Linked DNA regions of Homo sapiens: region 1 is linked to region 2. The links come from fine-mapping of genetic effects on gene expression. A gene starts in region 2. The other region holds a variant in brackets. All regions are shown on one strand. Distances are between the middles of the regions. Region 1 overlaps C1orf198 (chromosome 1 open reading frame 198). Region 2 holds the start of CAPN9 (calpain 9).

Evidence for each region. PIP is the estimated chance that this variant, and not a neighbour inherited with it, causes the effect.
Region 1: its variant is the best candidate, but not a certain one, in a credible set for the expression of CAPN9 in tibial nerve (GTEx, PIP 0.76).

Annotation. Positions count from the first base shown.
Region 1 is chr1:230,849,039-230,865,625 of GRCh38, forward strand. C1orf198 (chromosome 1 open reading frame 198) reads right to left here. Exons shown (of 4, transcript NM_032800.3): 2 at 6,630-6,680. Among named protein-coding and RNA genes, the nearest start is that of C1orf198, 11 kb to the right of the region's middle. RefSeq lists enhancers at 1-3,197, 6,204-7,403. The variant A/T (reference allele first, on the strand shown) is at 10,368.
Region 2 is chr1:230,739,279-230,752,148 of GRCh38, forward strand. CAPN9 (calpain 9) reads left to right here and starts at 8,110. Exons shown (of 20, transcript NM_006615.3): 1 at 8,110-8,431. The coding sequence starts at 8,219. It also overlaps a transcript of AGT not described here. RefSeq lists an enhancer at 11,415-12,870.

The DNA.
Region 1 (16,587 bases), 110 kb after region 2:
ACACACCGACATGCAGACCATAGGAAGGCAGAGCCCCTTTTGCCATTTCAAAGTAAGTTTTACTGCTTTTTGCTTCGGTGACTCCACACTGTTGGCCACTCCCCATCTCTTCCAGTCCAGGGCACAGCCTAGACTTTCCTAGAACAAAAGTCCATTTTCTACAGGTGTGGAAAAAGAGCTGGGCTCTTGAGAAAGGAGGTCATGCCAGCCCTCTCCCACGGCACTGAGCAACAGGGAGCCAGGGCTGGCGGGAGGATGAGGCTCATGAAGGGGAGGAACCCATGGGCCATGGGACGCCAACTCATGGGCGCTGGCCACAGACAGAAAGCCGGGGTTTGGGGATGCAACTTAGTGGTCTTCTATAGTCTTTGAGACAGGGGAGATAGGAGAGTCCACAAGGAAGCCGTCCCTCCTGACGGCAACACTGACAGCCCAGCCTCAATGTCCCAAGTGCCCACGGAGGCTCTGCTGGGAGGACTCCCTCCAGCCAGGCCAGGGCTGGGCGTCAGTCACCCCATGCGGGGAACTGGGTCTCAGTTGGCCATGTCTGTTCTAAAAACAGAAGGACCACAACCGAGCCCAGTGTCTATTTTTAACGTCCCACTCACTGAAGAGGAATGTGTAATATTTCAGTAAAAGACGAGTGCAGGCTGCCAAAACTAACTGTTTGGCTTGGCAGCCTCGGACAGATCTAAATTGTTGAGACAAAGGCTACAGAAGCCTTGTCAGAAAAGATCATCATTTACTGGAGCAAATCCTAATACATTCACCAACCACTTAACATCTATTCTTCCCACCTCCCCTCCAAAGAGGGAAGAGGAGGAAGATGAGCAGGAGGATACTAAAAACCTTTAGAATCACAAATTTAGTAGAAGTGGCAGCTGACAGGGACAAACCCAGGGGCCCAAAGAGACGGGGCGTGAACGTAAGCAAACAAACATCCACCCCGTCAGCCTCTAAGGCAAAAAACACCAGCCAGGGAGAACTCAGCTGAGGCCCAACAGGAAATGGGTGCAGAGGTGCACCAGTCCCCAGGGTTGTCAAGGTTAAGGGACAAATAATTGTGTCTGCCATTCTGGGCTCATCATCTCACAGGGACAAAGACGCACCAACAAGGAATTCATCAGCATGATCCCCATTTTTCCTCTATCACAGTGCTTCCTAACGGTAACAGGGAAGAGGGTAACTCTGGAAGCTGCATAGGGCTTAAGAGCCCAGCACTGGGCTTAGGACTGCCTGGTTCACATCTTCACTTTATGCCATAGTTTCCTCATCTGTAAGGTGGGTTGCTGTGAGGATTACACTCTGCAATGCAGGGAGGGTGCTCAGCACAGACCCGGCACGTGGTGAGATTCCTGATTGGGACAACTGTTAAAAGAGGATTTGTGCTGAGTCTGGAGGGCAAGTGGGGCCTTCTCAGGTGGATAGGGGTCAGGGGACGGAGCAAAACACTGAGGTCCAAGAGAACATGGTCCCTGAGGTGGGTGAGAACAGAGCCTGTGGGATGGCAGTGCAGGGCTGAGGGCAGGGCTGAGCGAGTGACGCATCGTCCCACACACATGGAGAGCAGGGAAAGGCCAAGAGCAGGGGCACACAGGGGTCTGCTGTTGTCTCAGGAAGGGGTGAGGCACAGCCCAGAGGAAGGGCAGGAGGGAGGGAGGGGACTGCTGGGCAGAGATGGGGGTCTCGGTGAGAAGCACAGAGACCAAGTTGCGGGTGGGTGGATGCAGCCCCATGGTGTCCTGCCTCTCAGAAGCCCCGTGACTGGTAGTGAGGAGGAACCATTGAGCAGAGCCAATGAATCCTCTATGTCCAGGAACATCCTGCTGGAACAGCCCTTCTGTCCCACCATGGGCAGCAAAGCCCCGAAAGTCACAGATAGACCTGAGCTCCAATTGCTCTCCGCCCACTCGACCTGCCAGGCACCTGACCCCCTGCATCCCGGTGTCCTGACCCACAGCGTGAACAGGGACACCAGCCTCCCAAGGGTGAAAGAATTCAGAGTACACACACATCCCTATCATGGGCACAGCACAGAGGAAGGGCCTGTGCTCATAAATGCTTATGTATCTTCCCAAGGAGGCGTCTGGAAGGCTTCCCTACTCTGGGAATGATCTATATTAGCCCCCCAAGATCTTTTGATACCCATGAAATCAAGGAACCGATCCCCAGCCCAACCTACTTACTGCCCTAATAGGCAGCTGGACATCAGGTGAAGGAAGGGGGTAGCCAGAAAGGAGAAGCAGCCAGACAGCTTGGGGGAGGGGCAAGGCTGGGGACAGGGTCACAACGCCCAGCCAACCAAGAGCCCAGCCAACCAAGGCTGGGGATGGGGTCCCAAGAGCCCAGCCAACTTTGAAGCAGGGCCTGACCTGCCCCAAAGGCATTTTCTCCTCTGAATTCTCCAGCCCAGACCGCCTGGGGAATGTAAAGAATCCTCTCTCCACTCCCTGCCTCCTCCTGTCTGGAGCCTTCTAAGTGCTGAGTTTTTTCCTCTCGAAACAGCAGTAGCATGAGACAGGAATGCAACATTAGGTCCCCACTGGCCCCCTCTCCCCTGGCACGCCTGCCAAGCTGATAGATGAGTGGAAAAGATGACAATCACGACCACCCCCACCCTTCTGGGACAGGCAGGCCTCCCTTCTGTGATGGAAGAAGTCTGGGTAACAGAGGCACCACAGCCACGATCAGCCTCAGAGGAGGCAACCGAGGCAGGGTGGACAGGCTGGAAAACCAGGTGGGTGCACAGCTGCTACTGTGAGGCTGCAGCGAGCTCTCCTGATCAAAGCTGCGTTGCATGGGGGCAGCGACCACAGGTCCCAAGCACAACCGCAGCTCATTCTGTGGAGGTGGAATGGTCATGGGCTGGCCAAGAGAAAGGAACCCATACAGAGGTGCAGCAGTTGGGTGAGAAACCAAAAATCCCTGCGATTCTTAACTCTGCCCATGGCCATGACCTTGGGTCAGGCTTACCCTTGTGTAGGTAGATTCGTCAGGGGATGGAGAAGTCAGAGCTGGGCACTCTGCTGGCATCCACTAAATGTCTGTTGAACTGAATAGCTGAAGAAGGGCATGAGGTTACATCTACCCAACATGTGTACAAATTTGGGTTAAACGTATGGAGAAAATGACTGGAGTGACTCGGTGGCTATAGCTTTTGTGCTGAGTGAGATTTGCCACCAAACACAGCTGTCCACTCACTGAGCTGTTGTTCGAGCACAGAAGTGGCATATGCTCAACTCTGGGCCTGCAGCATAATGTCTGACATAAACGGGGTATACAATAAATATCTACTGGAAAAAAAAAATCAATGAATGATTTCAGAGACAGAAAATAGATGGTGGCTGCCATGGGCTAGTGAGAGTGGGGGGCAGTCATTCTTTAATGGGAACAGAGTTTCAGTCTTGCAAGATGAGTTCTGGAGGTGTGGATTAGCTTGACTTAATCATTCCACAATGTACACACGTATCAAAACATCTTGTTGTACATCATAAATATACACAATTTTTCATTTGTCAATTAAAAAGTAATAATTTTTAAAAAGAGTTCTCGAGATGGATGATGGTGATGTTTACACAAAAATGTGAATGTACTGAATGCCACCAGACTATACACATAAACATGATTAAGATGGAAAATTTTATGTTGTGTGTATTTTGCCACAATTAAAAATAAAACTTAAAAAAATCAATGAGTGATTAATTAAAAATGGAAAGAAATGGCCAAGGTTAACCAAGGAATGAATGACATCATACAATCTTAGATTTAAAATGGGTGCAAACTCTCTGCAGCTCTTCTATCAAGAGGTGCAATCTCTTTCCTCAAACATTGAATCTGGCCCAGCTTGTGCCTTGATTTGACCAGCAGAACAGAGCAGAAGTGATACTATGCAATTGCCCAGCCTAAGCTTCAAAAGAGTCCTCGTAGGCTTCCGTTCCCGCACACGGATCTCTCCACCTCTGTGTGAAGAAGTCCAGGCTGGCTTGCTGGAGACATGTGGCCCAGCTAACAGCCAGCACCAACCAGACACGTGAGCAAGGTTCTCAGAGCACCCAGCTCCCATCAGGCGATCAGATGACACATAAGTGATCCCAGGCAAGGCCAACGGAAGAACAGTCCAGCTGAGCCCTGCTCCGATCATTGACCCACACAATCATGAGCACATAAAATGCTGCTTCAAGCCATTAAGTTTGTTATGCATCTATAGAGAACTGATAGAGTGAGGAAGGCATCAGTTGAGAGGTAACAAGAAATGGGGTCCAAGTCTCCCTCCAGTCCTGCAATTGGAGATTAGGGGGTCCTACCTTCACTAAAGCCACCTCCTGTTTGTGGCTCTCCAATGAAGATCTTATAAGCCTTTAAGTCCTAAGAAGAGTTTGGCAAATCTCTTCAAGCAGGATGGCAGGGCACTCCAGGGTTAAGACAAAGGAGGAATGAGTGATGGGCTTTTTAAAACTCGGCACTGCCTAGTGAAGAAGGAGGAAGGGACAGCTCCCTTGCTCTCTGAGATACGCTCTATTTTGCCCCTAGACGTTTCTAATAGTAAACTATAGTAAGTCTGACCTCGAGAGATCAAACAGGAAGGTGAGGACACAGAGTGAGCCCAACAGTTTGTGAAACAAACTGGAACTCTAATCTAACAGGAGTATGAAATGAAACTGCCAACTCTGAGCTATGAAGACTACACTTTACTAAAAGGATGCAATTTCTGATGGGTGACACATATTAACCAGATTTTAGCAAGCTTCCTCAACTTACACTGGTTCCTAAGGGACCAGATATGCTGGCATCTGTGGACAATGAGCCTCTCAGCACAAGTGTGATTCAAGTGGACTGTACTTGCTCTCTTTTTTCTCGAGATCTTCGCCAGGCACCTGTTTCCCACTCTGGCCCCAGCAGCTGTGCTTGTATCAGTGGCCACTCCAGGAGCTGCACCACCTTGTCCCAGAATGTCATTTATGCCAAGTTAATAAAAGATGAAATGTCCTGTCCCACAAATAGCTGATTCAGGAACATTTAACAAGCTAAATTCTTAAGAGAACAGATGTTCTCGTGGGGAACATGATGAGCTTAGGTCTTAGGACACTTTAACTATTTTTTACTTTCCTTTGCCTTTATCACTATGATATCTTCAAATATAGACCCAGTCCAGGAAAATCTGCACTGCTTTCTGGGTCACCATACCCAAGGCTGCTCATTTCCAACACACAGAGAATCTATCTGGCTATTACCACTAGATATCATCTATAGGATTAGTACTTCTCACAATTACCCATTTTGGGAGCCCATAGAAGAGGAATATTGAGGGCCCTGGCTAAGAATCAATGTAATGATGCACTTTTTACCCACTTATGACTTCCTTTGCAATGTCAGTAGACACAGGATCCAGTGTTGGATTTAGAAGCTATTCCAATTGCAGGCGGCTCCTTAACATCTTGTGCTCTCTCCCAAGACAGTGCTGGTCACCCCTGCAACCCGTACCCGATCCCTAGGGAGACTACATTAATGCCATGCCTTCCCCAAAACCACCTCTTAACTCTAACACTCATCTCAATTGTCCCACGCTCCCACGCCCTGAGGCCAGCTCACTTCACCCAGGGCAATCGGCAATAGCTTACTAAATACTGTCTGTGTGCCAAGAACAGTGTCAGCTGTCCTTGTGTCCATCTGAACCCTTGGGCAATATTTCATTTTAAGACACAGTCGCCAACATGAGGGCCTCTCAGGGTCCTTCATGAACCACTCTGGCCCACCCTCCTCATAGGTCTCCTGCTGGGATGAGGGCTCTGATCAGCAATGATGTGGACAAGTGAAAAACCAAAAAACAAGTGCCTTGAGGTATCAGTATTTAAAAACCCTGATCTGCCCAGCAGTCCGAGCCCTATTCCAGGCTCACCACCGTCTCTGTCTGTAACACACTCTCATGACGTAAAGAACCCTCCAACACACATCACCAAATGTTCCAGAATTCAGAAAATCTTGGTCTTTTATTTCTGTCCCTTGGGTTAAAGACACCTGTCTTTTAGTCATTTTGCTTATGAATGTACTTCTACTGGGGCAACTTAGGAGATGGGGAAAATGAATTAAAATCAGTGAAGCTTGATGCTCTTAAGCAACTCTGGTGATGATGATGATAATGATGAGAAGAAGAATGACTGGGAGACAGAATTAGTGATCCACGTTGGGATGAATTAGCTAAATGGATGTCTATGTCTATCAATCAGCTCGTCACCTCCCATTTGCTCAAAGCTTTGTCTTATGGGGCATCTCCCATCAAGGTGCTAAGTGCTGGGAACCAGAGGTATGAGCAGAGACAGGGCCCCCAAGAGGGCTGGCCCCCTTAACCAAGCTGGCCGGGAGTCCTAGACAATGGGCATCATGGGGCGTCATTGGACCCTGGCAGAAAGCACTACTACTTTGAACTCACTATCACCAAACCACACACAATAGTTTCCTAATTCCTCACCATGCTCCTCCCATCCCCTCCTTTTCTACCAACAATGGACACATCCCCTGCAGCCTGGCAGTCAGGGGGCTGTCTTCTGAGTCCATCAAATGCTGAAAGAAAAATATACAACTACTCAGTTCTTTTTAAAAGAACAAATAGATCTAAATTTAATCCAACTTACCTTTGTTTCCCAGGAGAAAGGGGCAGAGTGCTCATCTTGCCAAGTTAGATCCTGAAATAAAAAATCGAGAATAAGTCTGAAATTCAAACCCAGACATACCCCATGCAAATATCCACCCAGGACCGTGGGGGAACCAAAACTTAGGAATAATCCCAACTCCTGGCTCTAAACAAGCCTGATGCTTTGACACTCTCAATATAATGCGCTGACCGTCTTGATCAGATTGCTCCCTCATCTTTCCCGCTGAGGCTGCCAGACACTCCCCTCCCCAGCCAAACAGACAACAGGGAATGCCGGTGAGGCCCCCCAATGGACTCAGACAGATGAGATGAGTAGGAGTGGATGAGGGCTTGATGGTCTCAGCAGAATCAGGCACAGACTCAGCCCTGAACAATGATTAGCTGTGTGGCCATGGGAAGATGACTCAGCCTTTTTGAGCCTCAGTTTTCTCATTTGTAAAAGCAAAATGATACTTCCCTTGCAGGGCTGTTGTAAGGATTAAATGAGGTAATCTGGGAAAAGAACGCCAAGCCATAATCTGCCAGTCAATGCCAATACAGGAGCTCCCCTCCTCCCCAACAGGCCTACCAGAGAGCTCGAGGGCATGGATCAGCAGAATCAATGAAGAAAAACGCCAATGTAATCCATGTGACTAATTATAACAAGAACTCTGAAATCACTCCCCACCCCCACCAAACAGAACAGGACAGAAAGAGCCCTATAGAACAATCACTACGAATTTGACCTTGGATCCAGTATGTTTTGTTCACTGGCCTGCACAAATGACTTGGGGAAGCCACCTTTCCTTATATCCCACCCTCTACCCGCAGTTATTCCTGTGCTAGCAAATGTCTCATCTGTGTCCAGCTTCGATTGGGTAACTTTTGTTTGTTTGTTGGTTTGTTTTAAGAGATGGGGTCCCAGTATGTTGGCCAGGCTGGACGCAAACTCCTGGGCTCAAGGGATGCTCCTGCCTTGGGTGTCCAGAGCAGCTGGGACTACAGGTGTGCACCATGTCTGACTGCTTCTACTGGGAGCATATTTTCAGAACAAAAAATCAGGACACATTGGGTGATACAGGCTAAAATGGGATAAAATATTTTAAACGGAGATCATATCCATATCTCCCCAAAACTCCAGGTGATTTATGTCCTTCCGTAAGTATCCCTGGATAACTGTCTTCTTCCCACCCATAGGTACACCGACTCTGCGCCCCTAAGTCAAGGGTCTGGCTTCCCTCTCCTCTACAGGGCAAACCAGTTCTGCCCACAGACCCTCTTCTTTCAGCTTTTGACAGAGCCTCCGCCACCCTAGCTTAGCCTCAGACACTGGGGGCAAATGCCAGGGCCCACGCAGGGGGAGTGCCTCACCAACACATAAGTGTACACATTCAGCCTTCCAGACCCCGAGTGTGCGTTCTCTGTGCAGACGCCTCCTAACATGAACAGCCAGTGGGAGGTCAGTCTTTGAACTCAAATAACGAAGGCATGCCAGGGTCTGGGCAGCTGAAGGCCTATTCCCAAGAAGCGGGGACAGGGAAGGAAGTGTGTGATGACTCCCCAGCACAGCCCAAGCACGGCCAACCCTAGATGACAGGGGCAACACAGCAGGGCCTTTGTCCGCTTCTCTATCCCAAGTGCCCGGAAGACTCAGCGACTGCCCGTAGCGGACGCTTACTCACTCTTTGAGAATATGTGAATAAACAAACTCTGCACAAGCCCGGATCCTTTCACAGGTTGATTTTCCCCCACAATCACCCGCTCCCAACACTCACACTCCCCCAAGACTTCCCAATGTGGGGGCACAGGCTCTTCACAGCTCTTGGCCCCAGGAGGAAGAGCCAGCCATCAACAGGGTAGAGATCTGGTTCTGTGTCCTGATGGCTGTGCTGTGTGCCTTGGCTCTGTGCAGTAGAGGCTGGTACATTTGTGGCACAAATACTTCACATATGCTGGGGATAAAGAGCAAGGAAAACCCAGAGAGGAGACTGTCAAAAGGCCAGAATCCAGGTCTTTATTTTCCCAGGACAGCATATAAAAGGACTAAATATATTTATATCAGGAAAAAAAACACCACTAACAAAGATACTAGGTATAAATATTAAGAATTACAAAAGTGAGGGAAAAGCCCTACAAACTGGGTTAAGCTGCATTAAAGTGTATCAAACAGTCAGTTCTGAGAACCACATAGTGTGTGCAACTAATGACCATGTGCACAGTAAGATGACCCCCATCCTCAGAGTGTTACAGTCACTGTCCTGTAATGGTATTTGCTTATGATCCTGACTTCTGAACTGATTGGTATGCAGTGCCTCATGGCTGTCAAGCAAAACCTTTAAAAATGAGAGGAACCACTGCCTTTTTGTTTGGAATTTCAGTTAAACTCAAGTCACTTCCCAATGCACAAACTTCATTCCTCCAAAAATGGAAATGGATGCCTGGAGGAATGTGAGTTACCAAGGCTTTGTGATTAGATGTCTCCTAGCAGAGGCAGAGGGCCAGCCTTCAGCTCTAGGGGGCTCCTTGTCCACGTCTCTGTGTGCATGCTAGGGGTACAGTTGAGCTAAATAACCAAAGTCCCTAAAATCCTCAGAACCCTCTGAGTTCCGTTTAGAAGCAATCAAACCAAGAAGGGCTTTGTTTTCACATGGGAAAAATAAAAGAGGCTGATGGAATGTAAGTATCATTTATTCTAGTTAATCATTCATTAACTCTTCGTGAATAAATGATCTCTGCACAAGCCTGGATATTTTCACAGGTTGATTTTCCTCCCCAGCCTCCACACCCCACACTCACACACCCCCTAAGACTTCACCGGCTCTTCACAGCTCTTAGTTCCAGGAGGAAGAACCGGCCATCCACAGGGTAGAGTAGAGATCCAGCTTTGGATCTTTCGAAAAAGGTAAATGGAAATCAACTGGCAAAGGTGCTCCTTCCATCCAGAATCAGACAGGCCACTGGCCACCCAAATGGAAAGAGGAAGTGCATGAACACCTGCGGGGCAGGCAGAGGGCAGGACCACTGACTGGCCAGGGTGGGGCATGATGGAGCTGGACTCCCCTGTTACTCGATATGATTCTAAATATTAATTATATACCTTAAGTCCCTTTGAAATCTGCAAAGATTAAAATAATAAGGCTTTTGGCTTTGGAAGGTGGCTCAATACAACACTCTGAGGAACGAAGACTTAGCCCAGAGCTTGGGGACAGTCAACTCTCCAGTGACTGCAACCCATATTAGCTGAAATTCCAAGGGGGTCACAGGAGGAGAAAGGGTCACACTGTGATTTCTCCCCTACTTAGTGTCGAGTCAATAGTCTTCTGTTTGCTCCAGCAAGAAATGAAGTCAAGGGGCAGATTCCTTGGGTTTCTGTAATTCTGAGCTCATAAAAAACAATAAAGTGCTTAACAAAAATAAACATGCCAAACAAAAATGTGATGGAAGCTCTGATGTCAGCCGTGGACTGCACGCTCTAGCCACAAAAAAGCACTGGCGGCAAGAACAGGCTCCCTGGGCTGTTGGATGCAAATGGAATCAGAATTGCAAAGTGGCGGCACCCACTCACACGCATACAATGCTGTCCTTTCTTCTACTCCCATGGTGACCAGCCTGCAACCAAAATGAGGCCAGGCACATGCTTTTGGACCAATCACATATGCTTTTTCTAGGACTGCTTGGAAGGCTTTCCCACCCCCCTCTCTGGCGCCTAGGATCTGAAATCATCTAAGTGTCAAAACAC[A/T]TCTGTTACTTAGGCCACACGACAAGAGAGTGGGCTTCATTGTTGGCCAGGACTTATCCTCAGAGTCAAATTCCGTAAGAGGCATCCATACCAAATGGGCAGCACTGAATCTCTCCAGAAACAATGACTTCTTTGGAGTGCAGAACAGAAAGATGCCCCAGGTCACCAAATCCCAGAGCAGAAAGCCAAAAAGCAGGGGGGAAGCTATAGAAAGCCACCAGAAACACAGAGCACTTGGCAATTATCAGAGGCCAGCGCTACATGTAAGAGGCTCTGCCAGTCCCCACGCAGCTCCAAGGACTCCGGGATAAACACACACACAAACAATCTTTTTCCCTAACATCCCAGAGACCTTGAGTATTTGCTCTTCTCTGGGAAATGTTCATTCAATTCAGTGTGCACCTCCTAAATCCTAAATGAAACAGAATTAAAAATAATAACATATATTTTTTGCTCATAGTGCTGGAATACATGTTTGCATCATATCGCCAGCGTTTACTTCTTTACTTGTTGATAAAAAAAATGGATACTGGAGGGCTTAAGAACTCTGTGGTTCCTAGACACTTTTATTTTTGGAGGCTGCAAGGCTGCAACCAGAGGTGTGTTGGAGCAGGCCTGCACCAACTAACGAGAGCTGATTGTAAAATTTTGAGGAATTTCTTGAACCTGTTGTTAAATATCTTGTTTAACTGCTGTGATTAAAAAGGTGAATTATACAAACTTGCAATTAAGTCCATTGTATTAAAAATAAAGGTAATATACTTCACACCCACAAGGATGGCTACTATCAAAAAGCAGATACTGGCAAGTATTGGTAGGATGTGGAGGCACTGGAACCCTTGTGCACTCTTGGTGGGAATGTAAATGATGCAGCCATTATATAAAACGGTTCGGCAGTTCCTCAAAAAATTACACATACAATTACCATTTGTTCTAGCAATTTCATTCCTAGGTATACACCCGAAAGAACTGGAAGCAGGGGCTCAGAGATCCTTATACCCCGATGTTTATAGCTGTGCCATTCACAATAGCCAAAAGATGAAAGCAACCAGGTATCCACTGACAGATGATGAATGCATAAACAAAATGTGGTCTATCCATCCAATGGAATATTATTCAGTCTTAAAAAGGAAGGAAATTCTGATACATGCTTCAACATGGATGAACCTTGAAGACATTATGCTTAGTGAACTAAGCCAGACACAAGGATAAAAATCATGTGATTCCACTTATATAAGGTACCTAGAGTAGGCAAAATCATAGAGACAGAAAGTAGAATAGAGGTTATCAGAGACTGAGGCCAGGAAATGGGGAGTTATTGTTTAATATATACAGAGTTTCATTGTTTAAAGGATATAGTTTCACTTTAAATAATACACGAGTTCTGGAAATGGATGGTGGTGATGATTGCACAACATTGAGACTGTACTAAATGCCTCGGACTATACACAGAAAAGTGGTTAAAACGGTAAATTTTATGTTGTATGTATTTTACCACAATAAAAAGTCATGGAAAGACATGGAGGAACCTCAAATGAATATTATTAAGTGGAAGAAGCCAATCTAAAAAGGCTACATATTGTATGATTCCAGCTATATGATATTCTGGAAAAGGCAAAACTACAGAGACAGTAAAAAGATCAGTGGCTGCCAGAGCCTGGGGGGCGGGAGGCATGAGCAGGTGGCACACAGAGGATTTCTGTTAAGGCAATGGATCCCCTCTGTATGATACCATCATGGCGTATACCTCCAAGAGCGACCCCTAGTGTAAACCAGAGACTTCGGTTGACAATGATAAAAACAATGCAGGTTCACTGATTGTAATCAGTGCACCACTCTGGTTTAGGATGTTGGTGGTGGGAAAGGCTGTGTGCATATGCACGTCTGTGTGTACATTTTGGGAAAGGTCTGTGTGGGAACTCTCTGTACTTTCCGCTCAATTTTGCTGGAACCTAAAACTACTGTAAAAACTGAATTTTTTTAAAGTGTGCCCCCCCCAAAAAAAGTAATAAACACTAGAAACTCATCATTTCAATACAGTTACTATTATCCATGGTCTTAAGGTTGTTTGCATCCATTGTATGTGTAAGGTGGAAATACCATATAGCGCGGTGCCCAGATATGCATCCCGTGAGTCACGCCAACAGCGTGCAACGGGCCATGGTGGAGTATCTGGTCATGGCAACCAGCAAATGCTAGAAGTCAGGGCTAGTTCGCCTCACTCCCCCAGAGCCGGCTCCAGCATACCACAGGCTACAACCATAACAAACATCCTGATATTCATCACATTCTGCAAGTGTTTCTGGTGTGTGGATGGATAGCGCCTGCAGAGGGAGCTGTCCAGCATGGGGGCTCCCTTAGGGCCTCCACAAGCTGTTCCAGGAAAAACAGCTAGGCGGGGAGTGAGGGGCTTTCTGGGGTGATTCTAAAACAGCATCAGGATCTTGGAACACGGCAACACGCGTATTGATGCCAGAAATGGTCATCGTCTTCCTGAAATCCATAAATAAGGAGAGTTTCTGGTTGACACCTGTGGCATCTTGGCTTGAAGGTAAGAAATGTAAACTGAGAAATTCTATAAGCTAGAGAAATAAGGCTTAGAGAGCAGAGCATGTGAGCAGGACAGAAAGTCCCATAGGTTGCAGAGTGTGTCACCCTGTAGTGATGCCAGGTGGCCTGGCCATCTTGGTTCATCCAGGGTGGAACACGTTGTTCCTGGTGAGCTGTGTCGTGCCCATCACTCCCTCAGAGATGCCAGAGCCTGTCCTGTGGATCAACTGTAAGGTTTAATTACCGAGTGACAACACTGGTTGTTGTCACTGATAATGACAGCACCCTGGACATGTTGACCAACTGAGGGCCTCCCAACCACAGCTCCATGCACAACTGTGCTTCTGCTATAGTTATTTCTATATTTATTCCTCCACAAATAAATATATTACAGGAGTGAGGTAATCACATTCCTTGGCATTTACCCAGATGAACTGAAGACTTACGTCCACACAAAAAACCTACACACAGATGTTTTACTCATAATTGCCAAAACTTAGAAGCAACCAAGATGTGTTTCAGTTATTGGATAAGTAAACTGTGATACATCCAGACAATGGAACATTATTTAGCAAGAAAAAGAAATGAGCTACCAAGCCATACAAAGACATGGAAGTACCTTAAATGAGTATCACTAAGTGAAAGAAGCCCATCTCAAAAGGCTGCATACTGTATGAATCCAACCATATTACATTCTGGAAAAGGCAAAACCATGGAGACAGTTAAAATATCGTTGGTTGCCAGGGGTTGGGGGGATGGAAGGATAAGTAAGTGGAACACAGAGAATTTTTAGGGCAGTGAAACTCCTCTGTGTGATATTATAGTGATGGGTACATGTCATTATTCATTTGTCAAGATCCATACAGTGGACAACCCAAGAGTGAACCCTAAACTATGGACTTTGGGTGGTAACGACGTGTCCATGTACGTTCATCAGCTGTCACAAATGCACCACTGTAGCGTGGGAGCCAGAGAGGCAATGAGAACTTTGTACCTTCTGCTCAATTTTGCTGTGAATCTAAAATTGCTCTAAAAAATTAAGTCTATTCAAAAAGAGGAGAGTAAGGAAGAATGATTAAAATATGTTCTTTTTTTACCAACTGCTTATTTTCAGCAAGCATTGTTTACATATTTATGGAATCCATGCTTTTCCCTTTGACTTGTAATATTTTTAACTCTGCTGAGATAAGGGGGTTTCCATAACTGGAAATACAACACTGCAGTTGCAAAGACAGAAAAACAGTCCTGATTTAACCATGGGGCATGTTTTCCACCATGAATACGAATCCAGAAACTCAAGCCTCCATAGATTACAGCAAAACAAAAACTCAGCATGAGCATGGTAATGGAAACAGGATACAGAGTAGGTGGAGGAAATGCTAAAGAAATGAGCAAAATATGACAGGAAGTCTAAACAAATAGGTCTCATCTTCCTTCATTTATTCAGAAGAAGAAGAAGAAGAAATAGATATTTTCTCCAGTACTATGGGAATCCCTTGCTTAGAGTGTAAAAGTGACTCTTATCAATTAAAAGATGACTCCACACCTGTCGCCATGCTTCCTGCCCTCCCTCCCCGCAGGTCTGTGACCAAGTCACTTCATTTCTTTGCTAAACCTGTTCCCTGGCTGCCACTGGGCCACCCTCCCACAGGAGCCAGCAGGCAGAGGTGCCTGGGGAGGAGAGGCCTAAGCTGCTGCCTGAGCTCCCAGGGCAGCAGGCCACGTGCTACTCAGGGCAGAGAACCCACAACATAAAAGGGAAGCTCACAGAACAGGCCCGACCGCCCTCTCCTCTCAGCCCGTGGAACTGGAATTGAAGCAGGGCCATCTCAACTCCTGCCCAGGGCCCCAGGTAGAGGGACTCAGAAAACCCTGCTATCCTTTCTAAAACATCCATGGATACAGCAGGCACAAGGTGGGAATCATAATTCAAACATCCACCTTCCTTAAAAAATGAGTCCAAAATGCTGAGAAAGCAACTCCCTAATTTTCTTTTTCCTTTTTTTTATTTTTATTTTATTTTTTTAATGTCAGATTTCAAAAAGAAAAGGCCAGTCTACTAAAGGGAAAGGGGATGAGGAAACTTCATGTGTCATTGGTCCTGCATTGAGAGGCCACACAGCAGCCAAACTCAAATCTAACAAAGATGTAAGGCTCAAGAAAGTTCTGAAGCGATTGATTCTACCAGCTGTTTTATAATGCTCCTTCTGCCTGGTTTGAAACTTTTAACAATAATGTACAGGTAAAAACTTTTGTAATAAATTGGTTTATTTTAGAAAGCAAACCTCTAGGCTGGCCAGCACACAGGCCCCTAGGTTTGCAGAAAGGTCTTTTGCAGGTAGCCCTAATGACACAGAGCGGGTGTAGCAGCTCAGCAGTTTGCTAAACATAGGTACCCATAGCCGCCTCTAGCCTAAGGACTAAGAAGCCACAGGCAATGCAGCAGACATAGGGAGGCAAAAACAGCTTCAGAAAAGGAAGCTAAGGCCAAGAGGAATAAGAGAGCAACAGCAAGTCCTCAGGTTCCTGTAGGAGGAGCAGAGATGAAGGCACTGGAGGGACACGGCAGTGGATCATGCCAAGCTGTTGAAGAGGGGACAGAGCTGTCTGGCTCCGGGTTCTTTAAAAATCCACGTTCCACAACATGTGAAACCCCGATTAGGGATATTGAAACACCCTTCTTGCCCAGCTCCACCGTATGGAGAGATGGAAGAGGCAAGTAGGTCCACGCGAACAAGACGCACCAGCTGCCAAAGCTCCCCCAGTCATCTGCTTAGGGCCCATCTGGAGCCAAGAATGTATCACAGAACGCAGAACCCTGTAACTCTCACCATGTACTCAGATCTTGCTAGATCAGTGACAAGAAGATTGGGGGCAGGAGCAGGGAGGAACACATTCCTAACAATTCAGAGGTGTGTGGGGTTTTCTCCTTGCAGATAACAGGAAACAGCAGAAGCAAACAGGGTGATCCCTCTAAAATAAAAACTTTTCCCCTCCCAAACTAAGCCATTCCCGAAACCCTACTGCTGGAGGAAGAACGTGGCAATCAAGCAGCGTGGGTGAAAGACTGTCAAAAGCATCCATTTGCAAACCTGCCTTAATGTTCTTACCAAAATACTGGACCCAAAGTGCACGGCCCCAGTGTCTGGGCCTGCTCCAAGCCAGACCAGCGAGTTGGAAAGAAACTCTGTGAGCCATTGGTTCTGCCACCAGACTTCACAGAGAGGCAAACTACCCCTTAAGAGGGGTGGCACCTTGCTGCTGGCATGGCCAGGACAAGAATCCAGGACATGGGGCTCCACCGGCTCCTCTCCTTTTGCTGGTTGAGAAGCGTTCTTCCAGCAGCAGCTCCAGATTCTCCACAAAATGGGGTTGGGTGGCTGTGGGAAGGGGCCGGGGCCTAGGTTGAAGCTATACTTCCATGCTTTTTTACTGAGATCATATGTTCACACGTGGGGATTTTTAAAGGAGTTGGTAAAGATTATGGGAGGATGAAGTACCCTAAGCTAAAATGCCTTGTCTCTAATATAATGGGCCTTGAGAAATATTTGCTCTGTTGATTTCCAAGGAAGCAAGAACCTAAAGACTGATAGGTCCCTTCACGGCTTCAATACTCAAAGGCAGCAGCCTCCTTCCCTGAGGAGAACCAGGTTAAGTCATCAAGGCAAGG
Region 2 (12,870 bases):
CAGGAGTTGGAAGCCACAGTGAGCTATGATCATGCCACTGCACTCCAGCAGTGTCTCTAAAATAAAATAATAATAATAAATGTCCAATCACAATTTCCACTATGGGGCGGGGGGTGGCTGGGAATTAAGAGTCACCTTGTCCACCAGGGTGTTGCCCTGAGCAGGGCATGAGATGGTGTGGCAGAGTCTGCAGAGCTGAGAGCCCAAAGCTGGGGACCACTGAGAAGAGCAAATGAGTTTCTGAGGTTCGGCAAGCACAGAGAAACCAGGTGGAGGGCTCATCATTAACGGGAAATGTTGGAGCCAGGCTGAGCTTCCGGGGTAATTACGGTGCATTGCCCCCGATAGGAAAATGAAACACAAGTTATGCTAGCTGTGACCCCTCCACAGCAAATACCGTAAGGAAAGAAGCTGGTTCCCAGAGACACCTCAACCAAGAAGATCCCAGAGAGCCAGAGGTCCCTGCTCCAGTGGCAGGTTTGGTAAGATTCACCCTGACCTAGATGCCACTATCAGAAGGAGGAAGGAGGAGGAAGATCACTTATTTGGGGAAAAGTGGACCTGTTACTGGAAAGGGGTCCTGATCCAGACCCCAGGAGAGGGTTCTTGGACCTCACGCAAGAAAGAATTCAGGACGAGTCTATAGATCGAAAGCAAGTTTATAAAGACGTAAAGAAAGAATGGCCACTCCGTAGGTAGAGCAGCAGTATGGGCTGCTCAACTGAGTATACTTAGGGTTATTTCTTGGTCATATGCTAAACAAAGGGTGGATTATTCATGAGTTTACCAGGAAAGGGGCAGAGGCTTCCCTGAAACAAGGCTTCCTCTCCTTTTTAGACTATAGAGGATGACTTCCTGACATTGCCATGGCATTTGTAAACTGTCATGATGCAGGTGGGAGTGTCTTTTAGTATGCTAATGTATTATAATTAGTGTATAATGAGCAGTGAGGACGAACAGAGGTCACTTTCATCGCCATCTTGGTTTTAGTGGGTTTTGGCAGCTTCTTTACTGCATCTTGTTTTATTTATCAGTGGGTTCTTTGTGACCTGTATCTTTGTGACCTGCCGACCTCCTATGTCATCCTGTGACTAAGAACGCCTAACCTCCTGGGAAAGCAGCCAGGAGGTCTCAGCCTTATTTTACCCAACCCCTATTCAAGTTGGAGACATTCTGGCTCAAACACCTCTGACAAACCTTACAGGATATTTGAACTTTGAAGTAACTGCTAGTTTACAGAGACAGAAGAAGAGAGATAGAGTAAGAGAGACCATTTTAAAATGAATAAGAGTGTCACACAACAAAATCTAAATACAAGTTTTGGTGCGAGGTGGTAACTGGGGACTCCAGAGGGCAAGAAGAGATAATATTTTTTTTAATTAGGATTTTTGGCCAGATGCGGTGGCTCACGCCTGTAATCCCAGCACTTTGGGAGGCTGAGGTGAGTGGATCATGAGGTCAAGAGATCAAGACCATCCTGGCCAACATGGTGAAACCCCATCTCTACTAAAAATACAAAAATTAGCTGGATGTGGTGGCACACGCCTGTAGTCCTAGCTACTTGGGAGGCTGAGGCAGGAGAATAGCTTGAACCCGGGAGGTGGGTTACGGTGAGCCAAGATCGCACCACTGCACTCTAGCCTGGCAACAGAGGAGACTCTGTCTCAAAAATTAGGATTTTTTTGGGCCCTAAACTGCGGAGAGTAAATTCCTATCCTGCTGCACCTGTGATTCAAGTCATCCTAAGATCTGTGCATAGCATCAACCTCCAGCTCCTAGATGAGAAGGAGAAAGGAAATCGTCTTGGGCTGAGGTCAAACTCCAGGGAAAGAAATCCCAGAGAGTTAGCAGAAGGCAGACAGGTATATTTATCATTCTTCAACAATGAATGTTTAAGGAGTGAAACTACTTCTCAGGGACGGAAGTACAATTTCAACGGTGTCACCTTAGGCCATAGGGGCAGTGATCTAGAGCTTACTTAGGGAGATTAGGCCTTGGAGGAAACTATATTCCACAATCAAGCCAGAAAGCAAGGCCAGAGCTGAGAGAAGCTATAGGCAGCTTGTGCAGCCCTGGGAAACCAGGGGAACCACCAGGTCGTCCACGAGCCTATGCGCCTACAAGCTGGGATCTCTTGAGTCAGACAGCTGAGGCCAAAGACTGGCATCACCCTGTGGAGCAGCGAGTGTGGGGGAGATTTGGGCTGGGTGCTCTGTTGCCTTTCAGGAGATGGCTCTTACCCTATGGTGTGATGCCTGAGCACGGCTCATTCCCACTGAAGAAAAGATTTGTTATGGTTCATGAATGAGTGCCCACTAGGACAGGGGTGAAACTAGGAGTGTTCCAGGGATGGACAAGTCCCTGGATGAAGAAAGGGAGACCCTCACCTGATGTCAGGCTTACCAATGACCTTGGGAGGGGATGGATAGGGAAGCAAGGTCTGGGTGAAGATCTAGTTCTCATCTTCTAGGAAATGGGGGTGGCCCTCAGGACAGATAAGCTCCTTTGCAAATGTACAGACATCTTGCGAGGAGAGATACACGGGGGAGGGAAGGCAGAGCCCACCTAGGCCAAAACATCATTGTGGGCTTTAAGTTTCAAACTAGGCTTTTAAAAGTCGACAACAGTTAAGGCTAGTGTTGTGGTGTACACCTGTAGTCCCAGCCACTGGGGAGGCTGAGGTAGGAGGATCTCTTGAGCCCAGGAGTTCAAGCCTTCAGTGAGCTATGATCATGTCACTGCACTCCAGCCTGAGTGACAGAGCAAGACTCCGACTCTAAAATAAAATTTTAAAAAATTCAACCAGGTAAATCTATAGGGTTAAAGCTAAAAAAATATAAAAGGCATATAGAAAAGTCTCCCCACATTCCTCTACCCCCATCTACTCCACCTACCCCCAGAAAACAGAACCACTATTATGAGTAGATCTTTGTGTAGTTTCCGAGAAATTTTTATGCAGATATAAATAAATATTTTTTGCCTTCTTTCTCCACAAATGCTGGCATACTCTACATGCCATTCTGCACTTTGAATTTTCTTTTTTCTTTTTCTTTTTGAGACAGAGTCTCGCACTGTCACCCAGGCTGGAGTGCAGTAGCACCATCTCGGCTCACTGCAACCTCCACCTCCCGGGTTCAAGCAATTCTCCTACCTCTGCCTCCCAAGTAGCTGGGATTACAGGTGCCCACCACTATGCCTGGCTAATTTTCTGTATTTCTAATAGAGACAGGGTTTCACTATGTTGGCAAGGCTGGTCTTGAACTCCTGACCTCATGATCCGCCTGCCTTAGCCTCCCAAAGTGCTGGGATTACAGGCGTGAGCCACTGCACCCGGCCACTTTGACTTTTCAGTTGAACACTGTATCCCAGGGACCTTCCCACATCAGTGTATGCAGAGTTTCCTTGTTCCGTTTTATGGCTGTACACTGTTCCACTTCATGATTAGCTGGACCATAATTTTCTTTACCATTCCCCCAACAGAGGGCACTAAGTGCTTTCCAACCTTTTTTAATGTAAACAATGCCACCATGAAATGAGCAAGCTGGTATACCTTTCACTTTTCGGGGTGCGGCTCTATCATCAGGATAAAGATAAATTTCTAGAAGGGAAACAGCTGGATCAGAGTGGGTGCATTGGTAGCTCTGAGAGGTATTCATAAATAGTTCTCCAAAAAGGAGACACCAATTTACACTCCCTTCAGCAAGTAGGGGGGTGTTTTACTTTTTCTTTTTGAGATGGAGTCTCGCTCCTCGCCCAGGCTGGAGTGCCGTGGCTCGATCTCGGCTCACTGCAGCCTCTGACTCCCGGGTTCAAGCAATTCTCCTGCCTCAGCCTCCCAAGTAGCTGGGATTACAGGCACCCCCACCACGCCTGACTCATTTTTTGTATTTTTAGTAGAGTCAAGGTTTTACCATGTTGGCCAGGCTGGTCTTGAACTCCTGACTTCAGGTGACCCATCTGTCTCAGCCTCCCAAAGTGCTGGGATTACAGGTGTGAGCCATTGCACGCAGTCGTCTTACTCTTAACATACCCAAAGTGTTCAACTTTTCTTCCAAGTCTGCCTCTCCTCCTTCTGTCACCACCATCACCCATTTGCTCAAGTCTGAAGGCAGGACGCCACCTTTACACCTCCACCCTTGCACCCCAGCAGAACGCCCTGACAGTACTTCTAGAAGAATCTGTCCCTTCCTGCCTTCACTCTGGTTACATCTGGAGTTAGCCTCAGCCCCTCTCACCTGGACACCTGTGCAGGTCCCCTGCCTCTCCACTCTCCACCCTCCTCGCCAGCCCACCCCATCCTCCACACTGCAAGCCAAGGGGCTACAAATGTCGCAGCCGGGTGGGCTCACTCTCAGCCCATCATAGGGCTGAGATCCCTCTGCAGGATCCAGGCTGTTTGGCATATCCCTCAAAACCCAGGCCCTGCTGTAAGGCCTGGACCGGGTGGGGTCCTAGAGGTCATCTCCCTGCACCCATGTGAAGCTTCTGAGCATTTGTCCTTGGGGTTTTGCCCCATGGCATCCCAGAGCCACCCAGGCACTATGTTCACCTCCTGCTGCCCTTCAAGATGAACAAGAAGAAGAGAAACAAAGGGAGTTCGCCACAGGCCTGAGTGTGGAGGAGACAGAGAAAGAACAGCACAGAAAAGAGAGGCCAGGAAGGCCCCAGATGCCAGGTCAGGTTCATTTCATGTAGAAATCACTTCAGCAGATTGCTCTGCTAAAGAGAAGAAAATACACTTAACATGATGCATGGCCCCCGCTTGGCTCAAAGCTGATTGCATCTCTAGGCTAGCGACAAGCTGGCAGAGCTTATTAAAAACAGTGCACATGATTCTCTGCCCAAGCTCAGAGCCCTTTCCCTCTGAGCCACTCAGGGCATTTCCCAGTGTGGGTGAGGAAGTGTGCAAGGCCTGGTAGACCTTAGATTGCATGGCTGCAGTTTCTGTAACTATTGTTCATCCTGAGAAGTGAAGGTTTGGAAAACTAAATGAAGACACCCAAGAATGCCATCTGCTTTCTTGAGGCATTGGTTCAATGTTTACTCAGCAAATGTGCATCGTGCTCCTGCCCTGCACTGGGCTGAGCTGGGAGCAGGATTAGACGCTAAGACAAAGTCATGGAGAAGTCCGGTGCCATGAGCTCTGCAGGAAAGATGGACCCAGGGCTCTGTGGGCAGACATTGGGCAGGAAGAATGATGAGGCTGTAAATCCTGAGAATGCACTCCCTCCCGCAGACATTCTCAGAGTCCCAGAGTGTTAGGGGGCAGGAGGAATTCCAGCTGTGGTTCTGGAGGATTGTTAAACCTTTTTGGTGTGTTTCCTACTCTGAGGCATGTTTGTTTTACTCACAATGATGATGCAATTCTCCAATTACCTAGCAACTATACTAAGACTCTAAAGAAAAAGGCAGGTTCTTCCAATACATAGATAAGTCCCAGGTGGAAGGACAAGACCCCAGCCTGGAGAGGTGTTTGTATCGGGAGGAGAATGAGAACGTAAATCCCTGAAGCTGGGAGTGGGTCTGGTGCTGAGCAAACCCTTTACAGTTCTGGTCAGTGCTGAAATTTACTTCAAGGTCCTTTCTCAGTTGCTGGGGCATTTGAAGGGGATGCTCCCAGAGATCTGGGCTGGTAATCATTTCCCTGCCGAGGTGTCACCAGAAATGGATGGCCCTCACATTGCCACACCTGTCTCCCTAGGTTGCCCTCCTTAATCACTTCGAAACAGAGCCGTCTGCCAGGGCAGTGGGCAATGGGACACTCCTGGGCAGCTCCATCATCTCTAGCCAAGAATCATTTGGACTGGCCAGAACTGCACTCTGGTCCCAGCCAGAGGACCCCAGTTCCAAAGTCCTTCATTGTGCAAACAAAGAGACAAAAGAGATGCCTTGCAAGTTGAGGCAAGTCAGGCTCAGAAGGAGACCATGAAATTCAGCAGCATCTGTGGGAGTGGCAGGGGGTGCAGAGAGGATAGGGGAAAGGGAGGAATCAGCAGCTCCTGATCCCCTCCATGTGCCAGACTTTGCAAGTGGCTTTGCTTCCACAAACCCGCCATGCCTCTAGCAGGCAGCACCGATTATCCTGATTCACAGCTTGGAAGCAGGGACAGACAGCATGGATAACTCGCCCAAGATCACCCCAGGGAAAACTGGGAATTTGTCTTAGTTCATTCAGGCTTCTATAACAAAACAGCACAGACAGGGTGGCTTATAAACAACAGAAATGTGTTGCTCACAGTTCTGGAAGCTGGAAGTCCAAGATCAAGGCACTGGCAGATTCCATGCCTGGTGAGGGTCTACTTTCTGGTTCCTGTGTCCTCACATGGTGGAAGGGAGGAGGGGGCCCTCTGTGACCTAATCTTTCATAATGACACCAATCCCATTCATGAGGGCTCCACTCTTCTGACCTAATCACCCCTTAGAGGCCCCACTTTCTAATACCATTACCTTGCAGGGTATGGGTTCAACATACAAATTTTGGCGGGGTCGGGGGGGTGGTGCGGAATACAAGCAATCAGGCCATAGCAGAGTAAAACCCAAATATCCCCAACTCTAATGTCTAGACCTCCCCTGTAAAACCATATGCAGGATCTACTAGACAGAACGTGTGTCAGACTGAGTGCACACTCCTGGGAACTGTGAGCTTATATAAAAATTCACATCATGGCCTTTTAACTGTACCCATTAACTCAAGACCCCTTGTCTCCAAACCTCAACTTTGACTAGTTAGAGAATCACACAGAAATCATTATAAAGTGCTTAGAACATCAGAGTTTTCACGTGGTGACTAATACTTTTATTGACTTATTTTTATTGATACATAATATTTGTACGTATTGATGGGGTACATGTGCTATTTTGTTACATGTGCAGAATGTGTGATATCGAGTTGGGGTATTTAGGCTATCTATCCCCTCCAGTATTTATCATTTCTTTTCTTCTTTCCTTCTCTCTCTCTCTTTTCTTTCTCTCTCTCTCTCTTTTTTCTTTTTTTTTTTTTTTTTTTTTTGACAGAGTCTCTCTCTGTCACCCAGGCTAGAGGGCAGTGGCACGACCTCAGTTCACTGCAACCTCCACCTCCCAGGTTCAAGGGATTCTCCTGCCTCAGCCTCCCAAGTAGCTGGGATTACAAGCATCCGCCACCACACCGGGCTAATTTTTTGTATTTTTAGTAGAGACAGGGTTTCATGATGTTGGCCAGACTGGTCTTGATCTCCTGACCTCGGGTGATCAACCCTCCTCGGCCTCCCAAAGTGCTGGGATTACAGGTGTGAGCCACCACACCCAGCCTGTATAATCATTTCTATGGGCAAACACATTTATCAAACCACCTCCATCCTCTAACATTTGTTTTTTCTCAGACGTGAGATCCTATTTGTAGGACTATAACAACAAGGAACTTTATTAATATGATGTCTAGAGAATGAAAGAGGCACATGTGCCCTAGAGGAAGAGCCGATGTCCTCTGTGAGTTCTCCTCTATCAGGGGTCAGGTTGGATGAAATCTAACCCCCACCTGCCTTTGTAAATAAAGTTTTATTGGAACACAGCCACACCCATTCATCTGTGTCACATCTACGGCTGCTTTGTCACTACAACAGCAAAGTTGAGTAGTTGCAGCACAGACTTTGCGTGGCCCACAAAGCTGAAAATATTCATGGTCTGGGCCTTTACAGAAAAGGTTTGCTGACCCCAGTGCTGAATCACTATGGGATTGCCTGTGCAGGAGCTGTGCCAGCTGTGTTCACATAATGCATCCTGCTTTCATTCACCAACCTCCCTTCCGACTACAAAACTCTGCCATTCTCTGATGCAGGAGATGGGACTCAAGACCACACCGTGCACTTCTCCGTAAAGCCACCTCCTGGACCAGTTGGGTTTCTTGCTCCTTTTCCTTCTGAAGCAATCCTCTCTCTCCCATGAGGCCCCCTGAGCGCACTAAGCAGAGGTGCCGCCTCTGAGTGGAATGTGCCAGGCCCCAGAGCTGCCTCTGAGTCTGCAGGAGTGCAGAGTGGGCAGAGGGCTCTCTCTGCTGTTTTCCATCAGGGCGTGTCCCATCTCAGTCTAACAGGGAGGTGCCCAGAAAATAGGTGGAGGTGAGGGCCACTCAGCCCAGTGGCCCTCTGAGCTGTTCCTTCTTGACCGGCACACACAGCTCGCTTCTTCACTTTCTTTTCCATCCACTGCCGGACCCAAGCCAGCCTTCCAGGGAGCAGCCATGCCTTACCTCTACCGGGCCCCAGGGCCTCAGGCACACCCGGTTCCCAAGGACGCCCGGATCACCCACTCCTCAGGCCAGAGCTTTGAGCAAATGAGGCAGGAGTGCCTGCAGAGAGGCACCCTGTTTGAGGATGCAGACTTCCCAGCCAGCAATTCCTCCCTGTTCTACAGTGAGAGGCCGCAGATCCCCTTTGTGTGGAAACGACCAGGGGTGAGTGGGGCGAGCAGGGGAAGGAGCATAGATGAGGCCGAGGTTCAGCAGCCCCCGCAGGAAGTGGAAACAGGGGTGCTGGGGAGGGGCCGGCTACGCTCAGTGCAACTGAGGTGCATCATCCCAGTCTACCGTGGAAAGCTTTGCAGTTTGGAGGCAGAAAATAATGTACAGGCCTGGGATGCTCTGCGGTGGGGACCCGGGGCATCTGGTTGTACCCGCTCCCCGGCTCCAAGCTGTCTGACTCCCACCGAGGCTGAGGACCTGGAGTCAGAGTGGGTCTTGTCAGCAGGTGATAGGCACGAATCAAAACCTTATCCACAAGGACAGGCCCCCACCCTGTGTGTGGTAACACTGAGATCACGTTATGCACAGTGTTCTGTGGCTTCTGGCCCAGAGCTGAGGGTGCTCAGTGTGGATGGATGTTTGGCTCAGCAAGGTCTCAGCAACCGGGTGACAGATGGAATACAAGGGAAGCAGGAATCTTCTCCCGAGAACCATGCACCCCCCATTCCCAGAGATCAGGGTGAACAGTGCCCCACCTCTGACAGTCTGGAGGTGTCGTCCCAAGAGGCACCAGCTGGTCACTGGGTCCCAAGAGGTGCTAGCTTGTGCCTGGGACGCCATGTCAATATTTGCGGTGCTGGATTAGTCAGGGCTCTACCTCTGACCCGGCGCCAGCTGGGCTGGCTTCCATTCCCTCCAGGTGGGTACGGGCCTGGGAGTGGCTCCTGTGGGGTCCGGTTGCTTTTGGGCAAGGAGGGGCAGTACAAGGGATGCTGGTCCTACAAGTGAGATCCTGAGTGCCTGTCTTATCCTGACAATTTGTCTCATGCATATAGTCATATCACTTCATTTCCCTGAGCCTCAGTCTCCTCACCTGTAAAATGGGAACAATAATGGCTAATGCAGGCCAATGTCTAGCACACAGAAGGTTTCCAGTACATTACAGCTATTGTCACATTATTACTATTACTGATACTATTATTATCATCATTACAATGATTATTAGCTCTGAGTCTCATCTTACATATGAGTAGCAAAGGACTCATCATAACTACCTCCTCACTATCTCCCAACATTAAAATAATGTTGATGATTAAAAACAATTTTTTTTAACGCACATTCACAAAACTTCTGGGCTCTTCAGGGGCAGGGCCAAAGTGAACCTAAGTGGGTGTTTCCGAAGTGGTAAGGGTTTTATTGCTATTTCCTGCAGTAGGCAGTGTGGGGTGTATGTGTGTGCACGCACTTGTGTGTGTAGGAATTTGACTGTGTATGTGCATGTGTGTGACTGTGTGCACATGTGTGTGGATATGCATAGGCGTGTATGTGGGGGGTGGGTGACTGCATGCATAGGCACACAGGTGCTTTGATCTTCACCTGCCAGGTAATTGATCCCACAAGGTGCCATGTTCATGGGGAAATCACAGTGAGCATTCAGTGGCCCTATCGGAGTTGGGGTGAAAGCTCCCAGGCACCTTCCTCACCGAAGCCACGCTGTGATTGTTTTTGGTTCTCTGCATATGGCCAATTGCAGTGTGAGGTCACGGCACTGGCAGATCACGTGGGGTTGCACTTTACAGACAGGATTAGTAGGTCATGCTCTGCTAAGTAAGAAAAAGGACATTTCCAAACTAAAAAAGCAGAAGTTACAAGACATAAAAGAGTGACCCTCTGAGGGGCACCGCCCACGACCATTAGGTCTCCCTGGGCTTATTTCCGGCCTCGGCGCATGAACAAATGGGCGCGTGGGCAGCTGCCCAGGCTGCAGGCTGTGGGTGCATTTTTAACTGTGGGCAGAGATTTCCCTGCAGTTGATGTCAGGAGCCCTGGGAAATAGAGTTAGAGAAATTGATTTCCTGGGCCCCTGGTGAGCAGAGCCCCTGGCCAGAAGCAGCGGCTCTTTCTGTTTGATCCAGGGTTTCATACAGATGCTCATGTTCTCTACAGGCACTTGATATGAAAAGGTTGGAAGCACTTTTTCTCTTCCTTAAAATGGGGACAATAATGCAACTTATGGGGTCCTCATGAGGGTCAGCTGCGTTACCATGAGTAGAGCACTTAGCAAAGAGCCTGGTGTGTAAAGAATCAGTGCTGGTCCTTGTTATTTCTACTGCTGTCATTGTAACCTAACACCATCGTCTCCTGACTCTAGGAGGGCCCCCATCCTTGCAGTCTATATTGACATCATCTAGTTTAAAGTGTAATCTGTACTCTACAACTCACTTACTTTTTGTCAAAGTTAGAATTCTCCAAGATAAAAGCTGGACGCACAAACCAGCATGGAGGGCATCTTTGTCTCCCCCTTCAGAAGTCTCCCCTCCTGGGACCAGGGCCACCAAGGCCTGCCCAGCGACTCTAGAGTCCCAGATCTCTGCTCCAAGGGGCTGTCTTCCTTAGTATTATCTCCTCTGGCATTGCCCCAAACGCTGGGTGAGGCCTTCATCCACAGGCCAGGGCCCTTGATACACACAAGCCCCTGCCAAGATGCACCCCGACCTGCCACCCAGCCCATGCCCCTGTACCAGCCCTCTGTCCCTTCTTCATCCCACTGTCTCCACCTACGGCAGACCCTTTATTGATCTTAACCCAGGTCTACTGTGTTGCTGTCGTTCCCACAGACTCATTTTCAGAATCTGTTCTGCCTTTTCCTTTGTCTGCAACTGAAGATTGTCCCTTTGGTCTGGTCCTCATTCTCGTACCCCTATCTGTTTCTTATTTAGGGGAGTTAGAAGCTTTACATCATATCTTACAGATTTCTGTAAAATCAGGAACAAAAGGGCTGAGGATGAGCATGGAGACTCTTCTTGCAGCATAGAGTCGCAGGGAGCCGGGGGGTAGCGGGCCATAGGGAAATCACAAGCATTGCCAGGTTCCCTGCAGACCTCTGTGGCTTGGGCATCATTTGCAGTGGGACTCAGCATTACACGGTGCACATCTCAGCAGCCCGTGGGACCGTGGGGCTGGACGGCCCTCCTCCTCAGCACCACCTTCTTGTCAAACACAGCTGTACTTGGGGAGGGTGGGCAGAGCACAAAGCCAAGGGGACATTGGAGGGCAGTGGACAGCCAGGCTTGCCCTCAAGGGAGCCCAGGGCAAGGAGTGCACTGAGGGTGACTCAGGGAACTGGCTGGGAGGGGCTGGGAGGCAGAGAGGGTGATAGGCTCAACCTGGAGAGAAGGTGAGATCACCCCCAGGTCTCATGCAAGGGACTGTGGACCTGAGTGGAAGTGGGTGCACAGAAAGAGGAGGAGGGAGTATCGGGTGAGGTCTCCCAGCCTGATGGGGAACAGCCACCATGCAGTCCATCCCTCCTTGTCTGCCTGTACCCATTTATTTTTGGCCAGGCAATTCCCCCCCACCAATTCTCAGTGTAAATCCAGGACACCTCCCCGAAAGTGCCCACACCCCTCTAGCCCATGTGAACAACCCCTGTGGCAGACCTGTGCACAGCGTGGCATGTGACCACAGCCTCTCCTGCACGGTGAGCTTGCCGTTCCCTGTGCTGCTCCCCTGACCCCCAGGAGGGGTTGTCAGTTGTTCTGGGACAGCCCCAAAGGCCCCATGGCCTCCACAGTGCTGGGCACATGACAGGGATCGGCACATAGCTATGAACAGCAGCGTCTGGCATCTCCAGACCTTGCTGGAAATGTGGCTTTTCTTCACTGGAAGGCCATGTGAAAGACAGAATGAATGAAAAAGAAAGAGAGAAAGAAAGAGAAAAAGAGAGAAGGAGAGGAAGAGAGAGAGGGAAAGGGAAGGAAGGGAAGGGAGGAAGGGAGGAAGGAAGGAAAGAAGGAAGGAAGGAGAGAAAGAGAAAGAAAGATAGAAAAAAAGAAAGGAAGAAGAGAAAGAAAGAAAGAAGAAAGAAACAAAGAAAGAAAGAAAGAAAGAAAGAGAAAGAAAGAAAGAAAGAAAGAAAGAAAGAAAGAAAGAAAGAAAGAAAGAAAGAAAGAAAGAAAGAAAGAAAGAAGGGTGGCTTTTCCCTTTGTGAATTATTCACTGTGCTTAGTAGAGGAAAGTGTGTCTTCGGCTGAGCCCCGATGATGTACAAGGTAAACAGAACAGTCCCTGAAAGCAAACATTCCAGGGTGCTTGGCCCTTAGTGCTCCAGGAAAACCACCTGGTGGTAGGGCTGTGGGGTGGGGGAGGGGAGGGGGAGGGGGAGGGGTCTGCGTGCCTCCCTCGGGGCTTCAGGCAGCAGTCTAGGTTCACTTCAGGTTTGTCAAGACCCCTGCAATTGAGACACCTCTGATCGTCCTATCACAGGACTGTAGCTTCAGGTAACCCCTTCCTCATGGCCTCCCAAGCAACATTTCACAGGAACAAATGTACATCCAGGATCGACACGCACATGCAGGACACTCACACGTAGACAATGCTCCCAAGTGCACATGCAACCAGCATACATGTGGAGCATGCACAAGCACACACGT